Linked DNA regions of Homo sapiens. Changing the gene in region 2 together with the main gene of any one other region gives a genetic interaction. Each region holds a gene or a part of one and is shown on either strand. Other genes may lie near its edges.

Region 1 (9,106 bases), on a different chromosome or scaffold from region 2:
TAGGACCTGAGAAGCTACTTCATCTGTCTAGATCTCAGCCTCTCATCCATAATAAGAAGCAGTTGGGCTAAATGATCTTGAAGGTCCTTCGTAATCTGACATTTATCAATTTAATTCATATTCTATATGCACTAAAAAATTCAATAACTTTCTTTTTTGTGGCACTTTGGCAAGGAGGCTTAAACTTGTAGTAAATTCCTACATAAATATTATTCACCTTAACCTCTACTTTCTGTGAATTGTTTCCTTCTTTGTTTCTTGGAACTTCAAATATGAAATCAATAAAGTGTCATAGGCCAGGCGTGGTGGCTCACACCTATAATCCCAGCACTTTGGGAGGCCAAGGTGGGTGGCTCTCTTGGGCCCAGGAGTTCAAGACCAGCCTGGGCAACATGGCGAAATCCTGTCTCTACTAAAAATACAGAAACTAGTTGGGTGTGCTGGCGTACACCTGTAGTTCCAGCTACTTAGGAAGCTGATGTGGAAGCATCACCTGAGCTCAGGAAGTCAAGGCTGCAGTGTGCTTTGATTGTGCCATTGCCCTCCAGCCTGGGTGACAAGAGTGAGACCCTGTCTCAAAAAATAATAAAAATAATTTTAAAATATGTCATCATGAGTCCTACTAAATGAAGTAAAACAATAACTTAAATAACTTCCCCCTAAGTGACACTAAACACTCAACTTTCTAAAGGAATTCTAAAAATTAATCTACTGATTAAATCTATAACAAATTTATTGGAGGTACAAAATTTGGTGTAAGTCTCATTTATACTGAATACAATTATCTTCTCTCTTTTTTAACCAGCTTTAAATTTAGTTTCTCAAATTGCAAGGATAAACACATAAATATTTGCCTATAGATACTATATCCTGAGTGTTCTAGACAAATAGACAAAAATGAGGTAAAATTAAGAAGTGTTGGCGTATTGCTATTTCCTGAGCCCAGTTTCACTGTTCTCATTAATCCTACACTGGTCATTAAGTTCTGGGCCTTACCTATATACATATATACCTATAGGTACAGCTATATAAATATACATAAAAAATATTTTATATAATTCTCTTGAAGACATATGTAACAAATAGCAAGATTAACTATTTAAAAAAAATAATTAATGGGGAGTTTTGTCACATGTTAGGATAATAAAAAGGATAATTTTTAAAAATCACAAAGAACCTGCTGGTTAAGATAGTTTTTAGGACTTAGCTCATCCCAGGAAACCGACTTCTCTAAGCATTGTTGAAAATTTGAAGAAACAGGTATTATAAAAATTATAGAAAATGTTTCTAATATGTCTCATTTATGGTTTTTGGTAGAGAGTAATAGCCAATATTTGCTGATAACTCACTGCGTCAGCTAAGATTCTAAGCATTTTACAAGAATTAATCCATTTAGTACTCATAGCAATCTAAGAGGTAGGTATTAACAGCTTATATCAGCTCCAGAATTAGACCCTATCAATTTCAAAAGCTGAGGCCTAACATGACATGCCAGACATAGGGCGTTGACCAAAGATGAGAGAACTTCTTCTTGCAAAGTAAGGCAACAAGCAAGCGTAACACTAGAACCATCTGCCCAAAACTGCTCCATTTTTGCCTGTGTGACAAGATCAACCCACTGTATAAAGAACCAACCAGAATTCACTCTGCTTAAAATGTATCCTTTGTTTGAAAATGGCACTGCCTCTCTTGGAAGTAATAAACCCAGTAACTTCATATGTGTCAACATAGCTCATGTTAAAGAGGATGTCATGCGCTATATATTTCTATTAGCTCCTGTCTCAGAAGACAACATGTCAGTATTGAAAGACAGTCACTTATCCTCTTGTAGGTAGGTGTCCATGATTGTGTGCTTTTTAATGGATTGAAATCCTAGATGAACATTTTTCTTCAAATACCTCATTTTTTCCCACTTACATGAAATCTTTGCCATGATTCATTAGAGTAACCAGGAGAGATAAAAGTTCCAGCAGGTTTTTCAAATTTGTCTTCCAAAAAATAATAAGCCTTTTGATCCACTTAGAGCATTGACCATTCTAAACAATGTTGCTTGAATCTAAAAGATATAGTGGGTAAATTAACATTAATGACAATAACCTTTGCAATTTCCTTGCACACCAAGGAGAAGTTAATTTCCTTTGTGTTGAAAATCTTCCAGTAAACAGAATAATTATGCACTTCAGAGGAAGGGAGAAAAACACCAGAAGACCCTTGGTAGCTTCAACCCTTCAGCATGTTTTTAAACCTCGTAAGGGAAGGCCTGGGCTGGAAGAGCAGAGGATTGGTGTCAACCGGCATGTATTATGACAATGTTCAGTTTGACTAATCTGTTTTTGACCTGTTTATACAAGAATGGTGTGTGTGAAAAAGAAAGATCCTCCTTCAAGCTTTTAAAATTTTAACCAGAAAAGTGTTGGAGTGAATGAAATAAAACACTATTTCTCAACTGATACACCATGTGCTGAAGAACAAGGCAGCTGCCGTGATGCTGTTGTGACTATCTGTATCCTAGCAACCACCTACCCACAGAAAGAACCACCTCATGGATGTAATTCCCTTACTGCACACAAAGCTGGTCCATAGCACCCTGGGAAGTTAGTCTGAATGGAGGAAGGAGGCAGTGCTTTTCTCCAAAAGGACTCTTACATCACTGGGAAGAAGCTTTGCAAATAAATTAGTGCCTACCATGAATCACTGTCACAGCAGTTGGCTGGCTCTCAAATACCTTCACACACACACACAAATTCCAGTGTACTGAATGTCCTGGGAAATACTTGGGAAACCCAGACAGTGAGAGGCATTAGTATGTTTGGTCAACTTGGGAGAATCAGAAAATCAAGTCAGAATAAAAAAAAAAACAGATGCTCACACCAATTCAGATTCCAGACTTAGCAAGGAGGTCAACAGGTGATGAGAGTAGAAGTTTCTGCCTTGTATTTGGCTAAAACAACTGAAGTTTCTATACATTTGCTAATTCCCAGAATTGAGAAGAAAGCTCTGGAAGATGCTCTTAAGAAATAGAACATCTCCTAAAGAAAGACATATTGACAAGCATTATTCCACAATTGCCTTTGGAAGTTATTAACTTTGGCCATATAAAACAAGAGAGTAAAACATTTTCAGAGATAGTAAGATCTTTCAAGAAGTGTAAAGATCCCTTCTGTTCAGTGAAATTTTTTCTTCGTCTACACCTGGCAATAATAGTATTCATCCTTCCAGACCTGACTCTCAGTCATCTTGTCATGAGCCCCAGCAAACAGGACATCTGGGAAGGGCCTGGGATGGCCGTGTGCACAACCACCTCAGTGGTAATAAAGAATCTCTACAAAGTGAATCTAGTTCTTAGTTCACCTAATATCTAGGCAATACTTCCTTCATGGTGAACAATATTAGCATTCTGGAGGAAAGCGCTGGCCTGTAGGCAAGAAGTAAATAGACAATGGGGACAATTACATTCCAATGGTCAGGATCTCTGTAGTTGCTGTTGTTGTTTCTGGTTCTTTCTTAAAGTTAATTCTAATTCTCACATGAGAAACTATAACATAATAAGACTAATATTTTGTTTACTAGCTCTAGGATGGCCCAAATTTGGAGTAATAATTAAACTAAGCACTAAACTGCTTCCTGGAATTTAAAATTTCTTGAAAAAGATTTAGGAATCCTTTAAAAGAACGTGATTTCTTTCTTTAAAACTGACCTAGACCTTTCTGAGAGATTCCAGGGCCTGCCTCTCTTCTCCTCGCCCCATCAAGTGCTCTCCCCTGTTCTCCTCGACCTCTGGCCACACCAGTGAGATAAAGTGATTTGTTTCTTAAAAACTGACTATTTTGAAAACGCTCTCCAATGCAGTCATTTCCAGCTATTGAGGATAGTTATTGAGTCTTTAATTGTTTTGTTTGCAATAAGTTTATAAAAACTACTTCTGTACAATAATTGCTAAAATAGCTTAGATCAGGCAATTTACATTGGAAAGTTGCTAGGTTCTCCGAGTTTCCTCTATTGTAATCAAAGTGACAAAAAGTTTAAGGACTTCGAACAGATTTTAGAAGACTTATTTTCCAGGTAAGAAATCTTTGTTACCTTTCATCTGAGGTTCAATGTTTGACTTTTTAACTCTGTATGGATTAAAAAACAACTTATAAATTCATCTATATGAATTTGTTAAATGAAACCTATGCATCAACGATAAAAATAAAAGACATTGTACTGATTCACAAGCCAAACTATTTGATGCTCCCAATAGCAGACCACTGACTGACTAGGGAATATTCTGAGCATACTTCTCTATTTACAGATGTGTATCGTTTACACTTGACCTGTCCAGTCAGTAACTACTAAATAAGGGCACATTTCTTTTTTATAGTGAAATTTTTTGGACCATGCCACCACAAGCAAATTGCTGGAAATTAGCCTTCTTTAAAATCTTTCCATCCTAGACCTTTCTGAGAGATTCCGGGGCCTACCTCTCTCATCCTTACCCCATCAAGAGCTCTCCTCTGATCTCCTTGATCTCTGGCCACACCAATGTGAGGCCACAGTGCTCCTGGAAGTAGTTCCCCCCTACCTGTCACTCATGTACCATTTCACCTGAGCACAAGTGAGATCAATGTCTAACTTTTACTGAAGTCCTCTTTAAGAATTGTGGAGAGGGGAGGAGGACAACCTATAGTATAACTCACAATCACTGGCCATGACCAGACCTGTTAAAGTCTCTTTTCAAGTCAGTGCCCTGCCTTACTTATGACTTATGTCCATCAAGCCAAAGTAAAGGCACTCCCCAGCCCCAAAGTGCAGTAGTCCCTTCCCAGACTCAGAATACAGGACAGAGAGAGATACAGACAGAGGGAGAGAGAGATGAGAGAGAGAGAGAGATGAGAGAGAGAGAGAGAGAGAGAGAGAGAGAGAGAGAGAGAGAGAGAGAGAGAGACAGAGAAGCATGCATTCCTAATACCTGGGACTGCCTACAAGAATCTTCACTTCTGTCTCAAAATTAACATCTCCCATTGTAGAAGGAAAAGAAAAATGATTACTTTGAAATCAGGAGCCAGAAATTCTCAAAGGAGTACACAACTGTTTTTGTTTAGCAAAACACATCAGCTCACTATTTAATAGTTTTTGAAGTTATTTTCATTTAAAAAGGCAAGTCTCGGATATGATCAGAAAAGCAAAATTGGAGGAAGAAGAAATCTAAAATGTTCTGCAGAAGGATATGGATGGTCTGAAGTAGATTAAGGAGGCCCAGGAAAGCGGCCAAGGTGCAGGTCAGTATCACTGTGGGAGAAAGAGGGTTTCGCTCATGTGGTGGAAGACTAAGGCCCAAGAAAAAGAGATGTCTGGCAAGTCCCTTCCACAGATGACCTTGTGTCACTTTTAGGAACAGGAATGAAAAATGTTTTACTTTGTTGTTGGAAGCGCTGGGATGTAAGCAGCCCCTGCCCTTGCCCCAACCCTCCCAACAGCAAACCTTCAGGTAAAGTCTGTCCCCTCACAGCTCATAACAATTGTTTCCTCGTTCTTTCAAGAAGTAAGTGAGACAGGGTGGTGGCTGGTGTGAGGTGGTGAAGTATGGGAAAGGGACAGTACATGAGGGCAGTGAGACACACAGTAGATGAATCATTCAGTAGGAGGCCCAGAAGGGACACATAGCCTTGCCTTCCTCATCACAGCCCCCACCTCCAGCATCTTCCAAGACAGAGGAGAGAGACATTGGGTTTCCTGGAACATATGATAGAGGTGCAGGTCACTTTAATTTAAATAGATGCTGAGCCCAGCAAGCCACAGGACTTGGGCATTTCTCAAACTCCAGGTCCCCCTCAGGAACATCATCTGGCCTTCCACTCCTTCCGGAAGAATCTCAGCACAACCACACGCATTTCTGTTTCTACCATTACACACTCTGAGAAAAGTCATTCGCTATGAATAACCCACCTTTACTTGAAATTTAAAAAAAAAAAAAAAACCACACCTAGCAATCAAGAGAAAGGAACAGAGCTTATAGTGAAGAAAAGGTAAACGTTTATTCTACCATTTCACTTATTTTCTAAAACTATCTTCCAAGGAGGGTGTATATCACATAGAGGCTATGTAAGATGGTTTGCTATTGTGTAGAAAGAAAATATTAGATACGTTATTTGTTGTGTAATGTTCATTACATACACATGTTCATGTGTACAGTGTACATATTACATGTATGTAATTGATAAGTAAATGTGTTTATTAGAAGCATATGCTTACATTTTAATTATTTTACTGATGGAACGGAGTCTGGAGAGTACTGATTTAATAAACCAACTGAGGCCAGTCGTGGTGGCTCATGCCTGTAATCCCAGCACTTTGGGAGGCTGAGGTGGGCTGATCACTTGAGGTCAGGAGTTCGAGACCAGCCTGGCCAACATGATGAAACCCCATCTCTACTAAAAATACAAAAATTAGCAGGTGTGGTGGCATATGCCTGTAATCCCAACTACTCAGGAGGCTGAGACAGGAGAATTGCTTGAACCTGGGAGGCGGAGGTTGCAGTGAGCCAAGATCATGCCACTGTACTCCAGCCTGGGCGACAGAGCAAAACCTGTCTCAAAAAATAAAAATAAAAATAAAAAACCAACTGATCACATGGGATCAATAGAAGCCCAAACCTCACCATCACACAATATCCCCTTGTAACAAACCTCCACATGTACACCTGAATGTAAAGTAAAAATTGAAATTAAAAAAAAAAGACAAAAACTAAAAGCTAAAAAACCTCCAACCAACCATACTACCCAAGGAATAATTTGAAATGGATTTTCATAAAGGCAGATTTGTAAATTATAAAGTAAGGTTTTTAATTTGCTTGAGCCAAATTATTAGTCTGTTTACTTTTGATAGAAACAATCAATTACTTGCTCTACCATGAACACAAGCAACTTCTAAATTGAATGTCAAATATTTTGACAAGCTCAAATTAGCCCCAAAATGTAAATTAACTGAGAAAACTAATTTACCATTTTTATATGCTTTTAATAGCTTTAAAAATCCACAAGGGAAGGGTTCCACACATGGGCAAAAATATGCAAAAAACTGAAATAATCGCTATCACTTTCAAGTGGCTTGTTTTTGCTGCTGTTAAAATAAGATTATTACCGGTAAGAAACCCGACGAACAGAGTTAATTTGCAATGAATGAAATTTTTTATCAGTTGGTATAAGAAAAAGACAAACACCAGAGCCACAGTTTCACAAAGGTACTTACTCAAATCAAGTTGACATGTTCTTGTATTTTTAATAAACATTTCTTCTGATTACAAAAATATGAGTTATGTATTTTTAAATTATTTTGACTATAATTTTTAATGTTGTAGAACTATTATTGGGTTTTTCACTATGGCATTTTGTCATGTATAAAAAATGTTCGATGATTATAGGCGAAACCAAGCCACATTTAGAAAATACCATTACATTCATAAAAATAATTTTTAAAACAACAAAACATTAATAGAATCTCGGGCTTATCGAGTGTTTATTGTATGCCAAGCTCTGTTTTGTGCACTTTACATATATTAACTCAGTGGTTCTAACCCAGGCTGTTGGTTAGAATCACCACATTAAAAAAAAATAAGGCCTAGATTCCACTCCCAGAAGAGACTCTGATCCAGACTGCCCGGGGTGGCCACCCAGACATTAGTGATTCTAATGCACAGCCAGCACTGAAAATGAATACATTAACGCAATACTGACAAGAGTCCTCGGAAGAGGGTACAATTATCTTCATTTTAGGGTAAGGAAAATGAGACAAACAGTTCACAAGCAGCAGAAATGGGATTTGAATCCAGGCAAGAAATCTGTCTCCAAAATTTATGCTTCTTTACCACTAAGCTCAATGACCAAACACCACTGAATATTTGGAGGTTAGTTTCACTGCTGTTAGAAAAAAAGAAAAAAAATCGCATAACCCTGGCTGAAAAAACAGACAAGCTTCTGGTCTCAGAATTACTCTGGTTTGCACATGACTGGGATGCTGACCACGCCTTAGCCGGTACTGAAATCACTGATTTCACTGTTTACTACTAAAAGTGATAACTTAGTGCCACCCCAGGATCCCTCCCGCAGCTGGGAGGCTGTACTTCTTCCTTACCCTTTATTACCAAAAAAGTTCATATAAATAATGCAGGTACAGAAGCCAAACAGGAACAATTTCTTTTTCAACTGTTATTTGTCCTCCAGGGTAAATAGACTTGAAGGTTCAGAAACCACTTGCCAGCAGTTTTCTTTCCTGCTGTCCTCACCTGCTGTAGCTCAAGTAGACGCTAACAGAATACTCAGTTAAAAGGAGGGAGAGGGAGGGGAATAGAAAGAAACCTAATTGTGTTGCTATCACTTGGTTTATCCGGCTAGCAGTCACATGAGTAACAATCTTGCATAAGTTTACCTGAATACTGTTAGACCATAAAGCATTCTTCCTGCTGGGTCAGGTGGCTGCAGAGGTGATCTGTCTCAATGCCAAGGGCAAGAAATAAGGCAAGTAGAATTTAAATGAGGGAAAAATAGATGATGGCACCATATCTATTTAGAGAGGAGAAAGAAATACTATCCTCTGAAATGCACACAGTGACTGACAAAGGGTGACCCAGGCAGTTATCAGCTAACATGAGACCAGGAGCGTAAAGTACGGGATTTAAACCAGTGACTTGCAAGAAATGAGGTAGCAGAGAGGCAGGGAATCCCAAAGTGCCATCCACACATTCCACACTCCATGGATCTGTGCCGTGTCACTGCACTGTTCAAATACGGCATCTCATCGTATGACTTGATCAGAGATTTAGCCAAGACGTGGAGCCCAGGAGGACATTTATTGAGCATACTCTGCTAAGCACCATGCTTTGGTACATGCTAGGTTATCTCATGTGATTCCCCACAAAAAAATCCTAAAAGCAGTGGGCGAGGGTATTATTTCCCAGAGATACTCTAAAGTAACTCAGCTATTAAGTTGGTAGCATGGATATGAAATGAGGCTTGTTTGTTTCTAAAACCTGTGGTTCCTTCCACTCTGTGACACAGTCTCCCCAACTTATTGTTTCTATCCTGGGTTTCATGTTTATTGGGTACAACCTACCTCAATGAAGGCACTT
Region 2 (9,159 bases):
GGTTGAGACTAGGTGTCCTTATCAAAGAAGTAATACAGGCCGGGCGCGGTAGCTCACACCTGTAATCCCAGCACTTAGGCAGGCTGAGGCAGGCAGATCACGAGGTCAGGAGATCAAGACCATCCTGAATAACACAGTGAAACCCCATCTCTACTAAAAATACAAAAAATTAGCCGGGCATGGTGACGGGCGCCTGTAGTCCCAGCTACTCAGGAGGCTGAGGCAGAATGGCGTGGACCTGGGAAGCAGAGCTTGCAGTGAGCCAAGATCGTGCTACTGCACTCTAACCTGGGCGACAGAGCAACACTCTGTCTCAAAAAAAATAAAAATAAAAATAATAGAATTCCCATGTTCTTGTACAAAAAATAGTAAGTAAGGTGCCTATCAAATACTCTCTTAAAAGGGGGAGGGAGTGGTTAAAAAAATGCATGAAGCTACTGTTGAAGTTCCCCTCCAACTTTGGGGACTGTTCTCAGGAGCAGCAAATACCCATCCAGCCCCCTTCGCTGACCTCCCCTCTTGTCAGTCAGGGCCTGAGGTGACAGAACAGCTCCTCAGGCTGGAAGCACCCTGGAGCAGCAGGTGGCCATGTGCCTGAGCCCGTGGCTCAGTTAGGAAGTAAGTGGGAAGAAGCCTGAGACTGGGAGTCAGGCAACCTGGGTTCCAATCCTGCCTCTGCCAAGTGAATGGCTATGGTACCTTGAACAAGTCACTCCCTCACTCTGGGCCTTGGTTTTCTCTTCTGCAAAATAAGGGGGCTGGACAAAATGACCTTTCAAGTCCCTTGCAACTCTGACTGGAAGCATGACTCAGAACTTAGCAAAAGCAGCCAGGAGAGATGGTGAGGTGAGGTCAAAGCACCCACCAAAAGCATTTAAATGGGAGCTCTCTGAGGTGGAGGGAGAGAAGCAGCAGGGTGAGCTGGGACTCTTTTTCAAATGCTGATTTCACTTAACAGGGCTAAGAGGTCACCGACTATAGGCAGAGAGGAGAGCATCTAAGCAGCTGCCAGCTCCCATCAACTCTCAGGGCTGCAACATAGCAGACTTCTGAACCCCAGCAGAGGCTGGGCTCCTGCCCTCCAGCTCTGCCCTAGCCCCCAGCATTGGCCTCGGCACACTGTAGAATAGAGGTCTCCTCCCCTTTTCTCAGGCACCTTCCCAAGGGGGTAATCCCTCTTGCCCCACTCCATCTTCCTCTCCTGCTTTATAATCACTAGACTTCTGGTTTTGAAAACCATTTCACTACTCAGCACCTGAGGTTAATCAAAATTCAAGATCTAGAAATCTCTTTGGTGTGTGTCTCTGGAACAGCGTTCTTTGAACCAGATTCCCCCCACAGCTGTAATTATGTCTCAGCCAATATTTGGATATGGAAGTGCTGTTAACACTGCTGTCAGTCTCCAAATGCCTTGTCTCTCCTTTCTTCCTCCATTATTAAGTTTTAACACAAAGACGTGTGTGGGAAATCCACAATTTAACAGTTGAGTCAACTTAAAAGATCTGGGAGCAGGCTGCCTGTCAAAACAGACTGACTTCACTCTTCGCCCACTTCTAACCTGAGAGGGATAAACTATGAGTGTTATTTAACACGCTGCTGGATTTTTCCTTCCAAAACTATTCAAAGTAGAAAAATATGTAAACCTCTCTCTCGTTAGTTACAAGAGAAATCTGAATTGCCACTCAAAAGCATTTTATAGGATGATTTTGTGCGTGTGTCTATTAAACAGAATACAGAGCAGAAGTTGGGAGCTTTTGTTCTGAAGTCTTTACATAATATTCCAAATATCCAAGAGAATGAACAGCCAGTGTCCCCAAACTACTAATGGGTGAAGGCAGATGGTGTCTCAGAGGGGACAGCAAACACTCCTGTAAAGACCGTCTGTCACTTCCTCAATGATACAGGTTAACTGTGGTCAAACTGTATTCACCCAACTCCAGTCCCCAAGGTCAGAGCCATGCTCAATCCAAACAACTCCTCCTCCTCCTTTCCCTTCAGTTATGAGTAGGGAAAGAGAAGTCTAAGACACAAATGTTGAAGTGTTGAAGATACTTATCCCCTCTCCAACAGTCAACACTAAACAACAACCGAGATCCCAGAGCAATAACTTACAGTAGAAAGCAAAGCACTGTAACAGGGTTGAGTATGAGAGCAGCAGGAAAACAATTCTAGAGGCCTTAAAATCTAGAAATGGAACATGCTTGCCCCGTACAACCCCGAAGTACTGGTGTTTCTTTTAAAACATCTGATCGTATATTCCAATAGTTCCACCCATACCACATTTCTGAGTTTTGTACTTGACAACTGAAATACAGCTCGCTGTGGGGGCTGAAGGGGAAGAGAAAAATATAACACAGGAAGTATTTTTCTCCTCCTCCAATCATTGAGACACCCCAGGGGAAACAGACCTGAGGCGTCACCTTTAGAGATTGGTTTGACCTGAAACCCCTGTGAGAGGAAAACCTTGTTGGTGACCCTGCAAGACCGGCTCACACTTCACTGCGGACCCACCCATCTCATGAGACCTCCCAGTCCATTGTGTTTAACTTCTGAAGTCGATATTCTCACTTGAATCCTTATTCTCCCCACCACCACACCCCTTAAAGAAAGAAAAGGGATGGGCTCCCCCGGCTCAAGGATAATGTTTCCTCAGACTGCCCATCACGGCGCGAGTCCAGGACAGCAAGTGGCCCTCTCTAGGAGGCGGAATCAGCACGGGCCCGGCCGCGGGTTACAGACTCTGTTCACAATGATCAGCCGGGCCGCGGACACCGCCGGCCTCTCCCCGGAGCCGCCCCGCGCGGGCGTGGGAGGGGGCCAGCTGAGGGGGCCAGCTCCGGGATCCAAATAATCCCGCCCCCGCAGCCGGGGGACACCCAGGACCCTCCCGCCGCACACCTCCTGCCCGGCGCGCCCCAAGGCGGCCCGGCTGCCCTCGCGAGGCTCGGGGAAGTGAAATCACACATTCCGGCTCCCAAATAAGGAGCGAGGCTAAATAAACCTCTGCGATCCGACTTCTCCAAACCAACCGACCAACCGGCTCAATGAGTAATGGGCCTTTTGTGCCCGCAGAGAGAGAAAAAGGAGGGAGGAGAGGACGGGGAACCACCAACCCCAAAATCACTTCCTTGAGATGGAGTGAAATTAGCAGAAGTCCCGAAGCCAACCGTTCTGACTCGGCTGGATCCCGCTCAAACCCCAAAATGGCAGGGTCCCCTGAGTCCCCAGGAGCGGGTCCCAGGGCTCCCGCCCGGGAGCGGCCGGAAGCGGTCAGGGAGGCGAGGGCGCTGGGACCCGCCGCCCGCGCCGCACTCGGCACCGCCGGCCCGGCCGCCCCGCCCCGCCCCGCCGCGGCCACCCCTCCGCCCCGCGCCGCGACCCAGGCCGGGACGGGCACCCGACGCCGTGGAGCTCCAGGGCCCGGGACCGGCCCCGCCTCCCCTCCCCGGGCCCCAGACCTACTTTGAGGGCGAATTTCTCCTGGGTCCTCTTGTTGAAGATCTGCAAAACTTTGCCGTTGATGCCCAGCCCCAGGACCTGGCTGGTGACCTTGTAGTCATCGATGATGGCGTTCTTCTTGATCTGCAGGCCGGACTTGACGTGGAACTGCGGGAACTGCTGCGGGGGCGGCGGCGGCGGCTGCGCCGGGGGGTGCGGCAGGGCAGGGGTGGGGGGCTGCGGCGGCGGGGCCGGGGCGGGGAACGGCACCGGCGGGCTCTGGCCCTGGGAGTTGGACAGCATGGTGCCCGGGGACGCCGGGGCACAGGCGGGGGTGCCCGCGGCCGCCCCCTCCTCCGGCTCCGGGCCCCCTCCCCGCCGCCCCCCGACGGGCTGCGAAGTTCGCTCCGGGCTGGAGCCGGCTTCCCCGACCCGGCCCGGCTCCAGGCTCGGCGGGTCGCGGGGCTCCGTGGGTCCCACCGCGCGCCGCTGGCTCCCACCGGCCCGGCGCCCTCCCTCCCTCCCCCCGGGGGCCTGGCGCTCTGGGGACCGCGGGGCGGCGGGGGCCCGGCCGGGGGGAAGCGGCCGCGCGACAATGTACCCAGCCCCGGGCCGGCGGCCGCGTCACAGCCTCGTCTGCGTCCGGGGCCGGTCCTTAAAGGGGAGGGGCGGGGGGCGGGGCCTGGGGAGGCGTGGCGTGGGGGGAGGGGCGGGCCTTAAAGGGGAGGACGCGCGGTGCCGGGAGCTGGGAGGATCGCGGAGTAGGCTGGGGGCTGCTGCCTCGCGGACAGTGAGAGGGGACAGGGAGAGGGGACGAAGAAATGCTAGTTCTTAACCAAGGCTATGCAAAGGGAGAGGGGAGGCGTGTCAAAGGAGCTGCATAATTCAGATGGAAAATCCACTCCTCTCCAATTGTCTGGGCTTCTTAGCGGCAGCGAATTGGGAGAGGGGTGTATTTCCAAGGACAGGGATGGCTTGTAGGTATCCAGCTAGATGAGACCTCGTGGGGGTGGGGGGGAGCTGGAATCACAGGGGTCATTCATCCCAGGAAAAGGTGTGAGCCAAAGGCGGGCGTATTAAATATTTCCCTAACTTCAACATTTTCCTCTGAGGTTTTTTGCATCTCTTTTCTCATTAATTTATTGTTTTTCAGTAAAGACGTATTATTGTGTAACCAGGAGCACTTTAGTAATTATACCTTTGAACATGTTTTCCTGTAAATAAACTAAAAAGGATACAGGGTGGGAAGAGGATGGGTTGAGATTGGGGCCACCTGAATTCCCGCCATCCTTTGCCACGGATTGGCTGTGTGAGGCTGAGCAAGCCTTGCACCTCTCTCTCCGTGGGAAGAACAGCGAGACCTTTTCAAAGGTTGTGGGCAGAGTCAAAGGAGATAATGAAACTGAAGGGGAGGCCCTGGGGAATGGCTTCTGATTTCCGATGTGGAAAAATTAATCCGTAAGAAGTGGGTTAGCCCCGTGTATCTCAGGAAAAGCCCAGGGATCTAGCTGGACCCTGCATAGAAGCTGCCAGGAGGCCTCCACACACATTCTGATGGGGTTCGAGATGACCAAGTACATTCCTGCCGACCTCCTCCCACCTCTGACTGGCAGAACATTTGAGAAATGGCAAGCAACCCAGACAGGTGAACACAAAACCTCAGCTTAAGTCTTGGTAAGGCCAGTTAGAGAATGAGGCTTGACCTATGGCCACACATGCCCCCTAATAGGTCCCCCAAAACTCCAGAGAGAAGACAACACCCCCAGAAGTGGCCACTGGGGATAGAACTTAGGTAGGTAAGGGACAAGTGCAAATGTCTCTTCCCTCATTCACCTTTCCCAGAAGATGCTTGTGGAGGCAGGAATGAGGGGGAGGAGTGAGGGGTGGGAGTTACCCTCCCAACACTGTCCTTTCCTGGGGCAGGTAGGGCTCTGTGGACCAAGGAGAGACATGTTTCCCCCGACACAAACATATGCTCTTCTCAAGCAGCATCTGCTTAGCTCCATGTACAAGGTGCCGTGCTCAGCCCTGCAGCGGTGGATGGTGTTATCTGATGGGGAAGAAGACAGATAACAGTGGCACAGAGAGGATGGCAGACACCTTCCTAGGAGCCCGAAGCACAGGGATTCTCTTCTGTCTACAGCAGCCAGCAGCTTCCTCCCGAGTCTACAGGATAGATACGGTTAGACAGCTCCCCAGATGCCCCTGACTCTTCAAAGACAAAGACACTATCTAAGGCCACGGGGATAGGAAAACATCTTCACTCCACTACTTCTATAGCACTGCTATCACCTCCCCGAAGCACACACAGGAGATGCCCAAGGACAAGAGGAACGCAGGGGTGGGAAGGTGGAAGGCTCCAACTGCTCAGGCTCTGGTGGGGCTGCTCTGGAGTCTGAGTTGGTCTTTTTTTTCTTTGCAGAGTCACTGGAAGCTCCCTATGGCTTGGTGTTGAGGTATCACCTGCTTTTCTCCACAAAGCTAGAAAGAGAATAACTTCCTTCTGCCTTTTCAGAGGCAGCAAGGCACAGTGGTAAGATGACAGGATCTAGAGACAAATGAGCTGAAGCCAAGACTGTCCTCCAACTGGGTTACCTTGAGCAAGACATGTAACATCTCTCAGCATCTGAAAAAGAAAAGAAAAAAACAACAAAATCTACTTTCGGGGCTGAGAGAGAATAAAATGAAATAGTAATTATGAGAACACATCCTAAAGCATAAACTATACATTATCATGAAATATTAAATATCACCATTATTTAGACATTGCTGGCTTGCTCCTCTGCTCTGTGCTCATGGCCTACGGATCTATTCCTGATATCAAAGCTGCTTTCCTACCTAGCTGGAGCTCCAGGGAGATGGTGAGGCCCAATGATCTAGGAATAACAGGACAACTGAATTCCCACCTGAGAGTCCTCCCGGAGCTGCAAGAGCCAAATAGGCCTAGGGGGCACACAGGGACTCTGAGGGTACATACATAGTGGATAGAGATTATATGAACTGCACACACAGCACCAGAAAACACACACATATATGAACACAACACATGAGCACAATGTGCCATGTAACAGAATAAACGCCTAGTGGATGAATAATTGAGGAGTAAGATGTGCTAAATGCAGAAGCACTGGCCAAGAGATCCTGAGTCTTAAGTTCCATTCTGATACTGACTCGCTATGTAACCTCATGAGAGCCCCTTGCTCTCTCAGTTCCTTCCTTCTCATCTGCAAAATAGTGACAATAACATCTGCCTTGCCTACTTTGTAGGGCTTGTGCAAGGATAAAATAAAAACTTTCCTACAGGAAGCAGTCCAAAGTCCTATTTGTGTAACACCAGGCTCTTAGCCATCTGTAATGAACTACTTAATAAACAGTTTTTATGGATGTGTAAAAGCGCTTTAAAACTTGAAAGTCTATGCAAATAGAAAGTACTATTTTTATCTACTATTAACATGCAAACACATATGCCATGCAATATAGTACACACAAAGACAATTTAAGGACCTCAGGTACATAGAAATGGATTAATTATAATCCTTGATTCATGACACACTCTCGTCATTGGATCATTGATCCATGCAGCTCCACTTTTATTGTTAGTTAATAATTATTTTTAATAATGCAGTAAGCACCTGTGAATCCACTACCCAAAATAAAAACTAGAACTTCGACAATAATTTACATCTAACTAGATGATTCCTCCACACACACTCCCCCAACCCCTCCATTTTCATGGCCCAAGACCCCATCATCCTGAGTCCTATGTTCACCTTTCCCTTGCTTTCCTTTTTATATAGTTTTGTTTCATGAAGGCATGTTCAAAGGTATCATAAAAGATGAAACTCAAATCACCTTAAAAGGGAGGTGGCCAAGGGTGATGTTAGCAGCAAGACCAGGTTAAAATAAGAAAATGCCTTGTCACAGTTTCAAAGTATTCCTCACCTTCTCATGATGATGGTGATGATGATGTTGATGATGATGATGATGATGACGATGACAATGTTTTTTGAGTGCTTCCTGAGTGCCCAACACTGTGCTCAACCCTCTACCTGCATTGTCTCATTTAAATCTCATGATGATCCGTGGCTGAGATTGCTAGTTGGGTGGGCTAACACCTTTTTTTCCTCTCTTTGATAGTAAAGAGCACCCCATATTTAGCTAAGCACAAGACTGCCTGGAATAAAAATTACATTTCCCACTTGAGCAGCCTCCACTATAGCCGGTTACATTCATAAGATTAAGTTATAACCAATGACTTGTAAGTGGAAGTGGTTTATGGAAAGAAGTATGTCCTTCTTCTTCTCCTTCTCTTTTTTCTTTCCTGCTGACTGGAATAAAAATTTCACAGCTGTAGCCATCTTGGATGGTGAATTGGAGGTTACAGGTTGAGGAAGACAGAACAAAAGGACAGAAAGAGTCTGTATACTGGTGAACCTGGATCCATCATATCAGCAATGAGCCACCTACCCAGACTTTTATATGAAAGAACAATAAATGGCCTTCTTGTTGAAGTGACTGATGGTCTAGGTTTTCTATCATTCACAGCCAAACCTTATCCTACTCTTACACAGCCCTATGAGGTCTGTACTGTTATCCTCACTTATCTGTTGTATAAACAAGAAAACTGAGTCCCAGAGAAATTAAATAACTTTCTCAGAGTCATTCCACTAGCGAAGGACAGGACCCAAATCTTTCTGACCCAAAGTCCATGCTCATGGTCCTTACTATAGATCCTGAGCAGACATATACTCACATATCCTTCTTAATGTCAGAAATATGATATCTGCTATTTCTGGGCAGGAATTGCCTGAAGAGGTATGGGCTATTCTTTCCATTTTAGAGCAACATAAATTTTCCACACCTCAATTTCCTTCCATCTTGGCCTAATCTGTTACAGAATATAGGTCTATGTTAATTTGCATGACTGGGTTATATGATAGGATACATTGTGACAATCTTTTTCTTCAAGATTCCCCCACACAGCCTTCACACCATCATGGAGTAAAAGTTTCCTGTTTTACTATGACGTGGCATTATGAATGAGTGACAGAGGGTGGAAATTTATGGAGGTGGATCTCTTGGAAATTTTCAGCTAACACTCTCTTGATGAGTGAGGATCATCCACAGGCTGGCGGATCTGCGCATGAACACAGATAAAGCAGCCTTTGTATCCACTGCTAGTACCGCAAACAAAATATTGCAAGAAGGAGCATGATTTACAGAAGAAGCTCTGTCCACTAAAAACCCACTCTTGGAAAGAAAAATGGCTTAGAGCCAGAGAGAAATAGTCTTCATGTCATAGGCTAGTATTTCTGTGATAAAATGAGAAATTCCCCCAAAGCAAAAGTGACAGATATATATACATAAGACTCAGTCACAAAAATTTCTGACCCAGAAAATGACCTCAAAATATTGGTCAGGATGGCCTCTATCATCCCTTCTATCTTAGCTCTTTCTGAAGGTGTTAACGGCTGCCTCACAGAAAGGAATTCTACCCATAGCAAGTGCCATTGGTAATGCCCTAGTTAAGACATCCCAGAGGGGAAAAATCCTTCCCCCACCCACGGTGCCCTTGGTGCCCTCCGTGCCCTCATCTGCACTTCATCCTTTGATAGTTTAATGCCACGGCAGGGAACAGCTGGGGCAGTGGCAAAGAATGCGAATAGAAAGAGAAAGAAGGAAGTACCCAAAGGGGAACAGAAACTTCACCTCTGCACATCA

The links.
Region 1: of MAPKAPK2 (region 2) and EGF, changing one enhances a phenotype caused by changing the other (phenotypic enhancement), as found in Homo sapiens cells (one study listed by BioGRID).

What each region holds. Positions count from the first base shown.
Region 1 is NC_000004.12:109,915,109-109,924,214, reverse strand, and holds part of EGF (pro-epidermal growth factor isoform 1 preproprotein), read right to left. Parts: intron 1-9,106.
Region 2 is NC_000001.11:206,679,812-206,688,970, reverse strand, and holds the start of MAPKAPK2 (MAP kinase-activated protein kinase 2), read right to left. Parts: upstream 4,067-9,159; 5' UTR 3,742-4,066; coding exon 3,463-3,741; intron 3,338-3,462; exon of another isoform or gene 3,114-3,337; intron 1-3,113. UniProt on the Homo sapiens protein: Stress-activated serine/threonine-protein kinase involved in cytokine production, endocytosis, reorganization of the cytoskeleton, cell migration, cell cycle control, chromatin remodeling, DNA damage response and transcriptional regulation.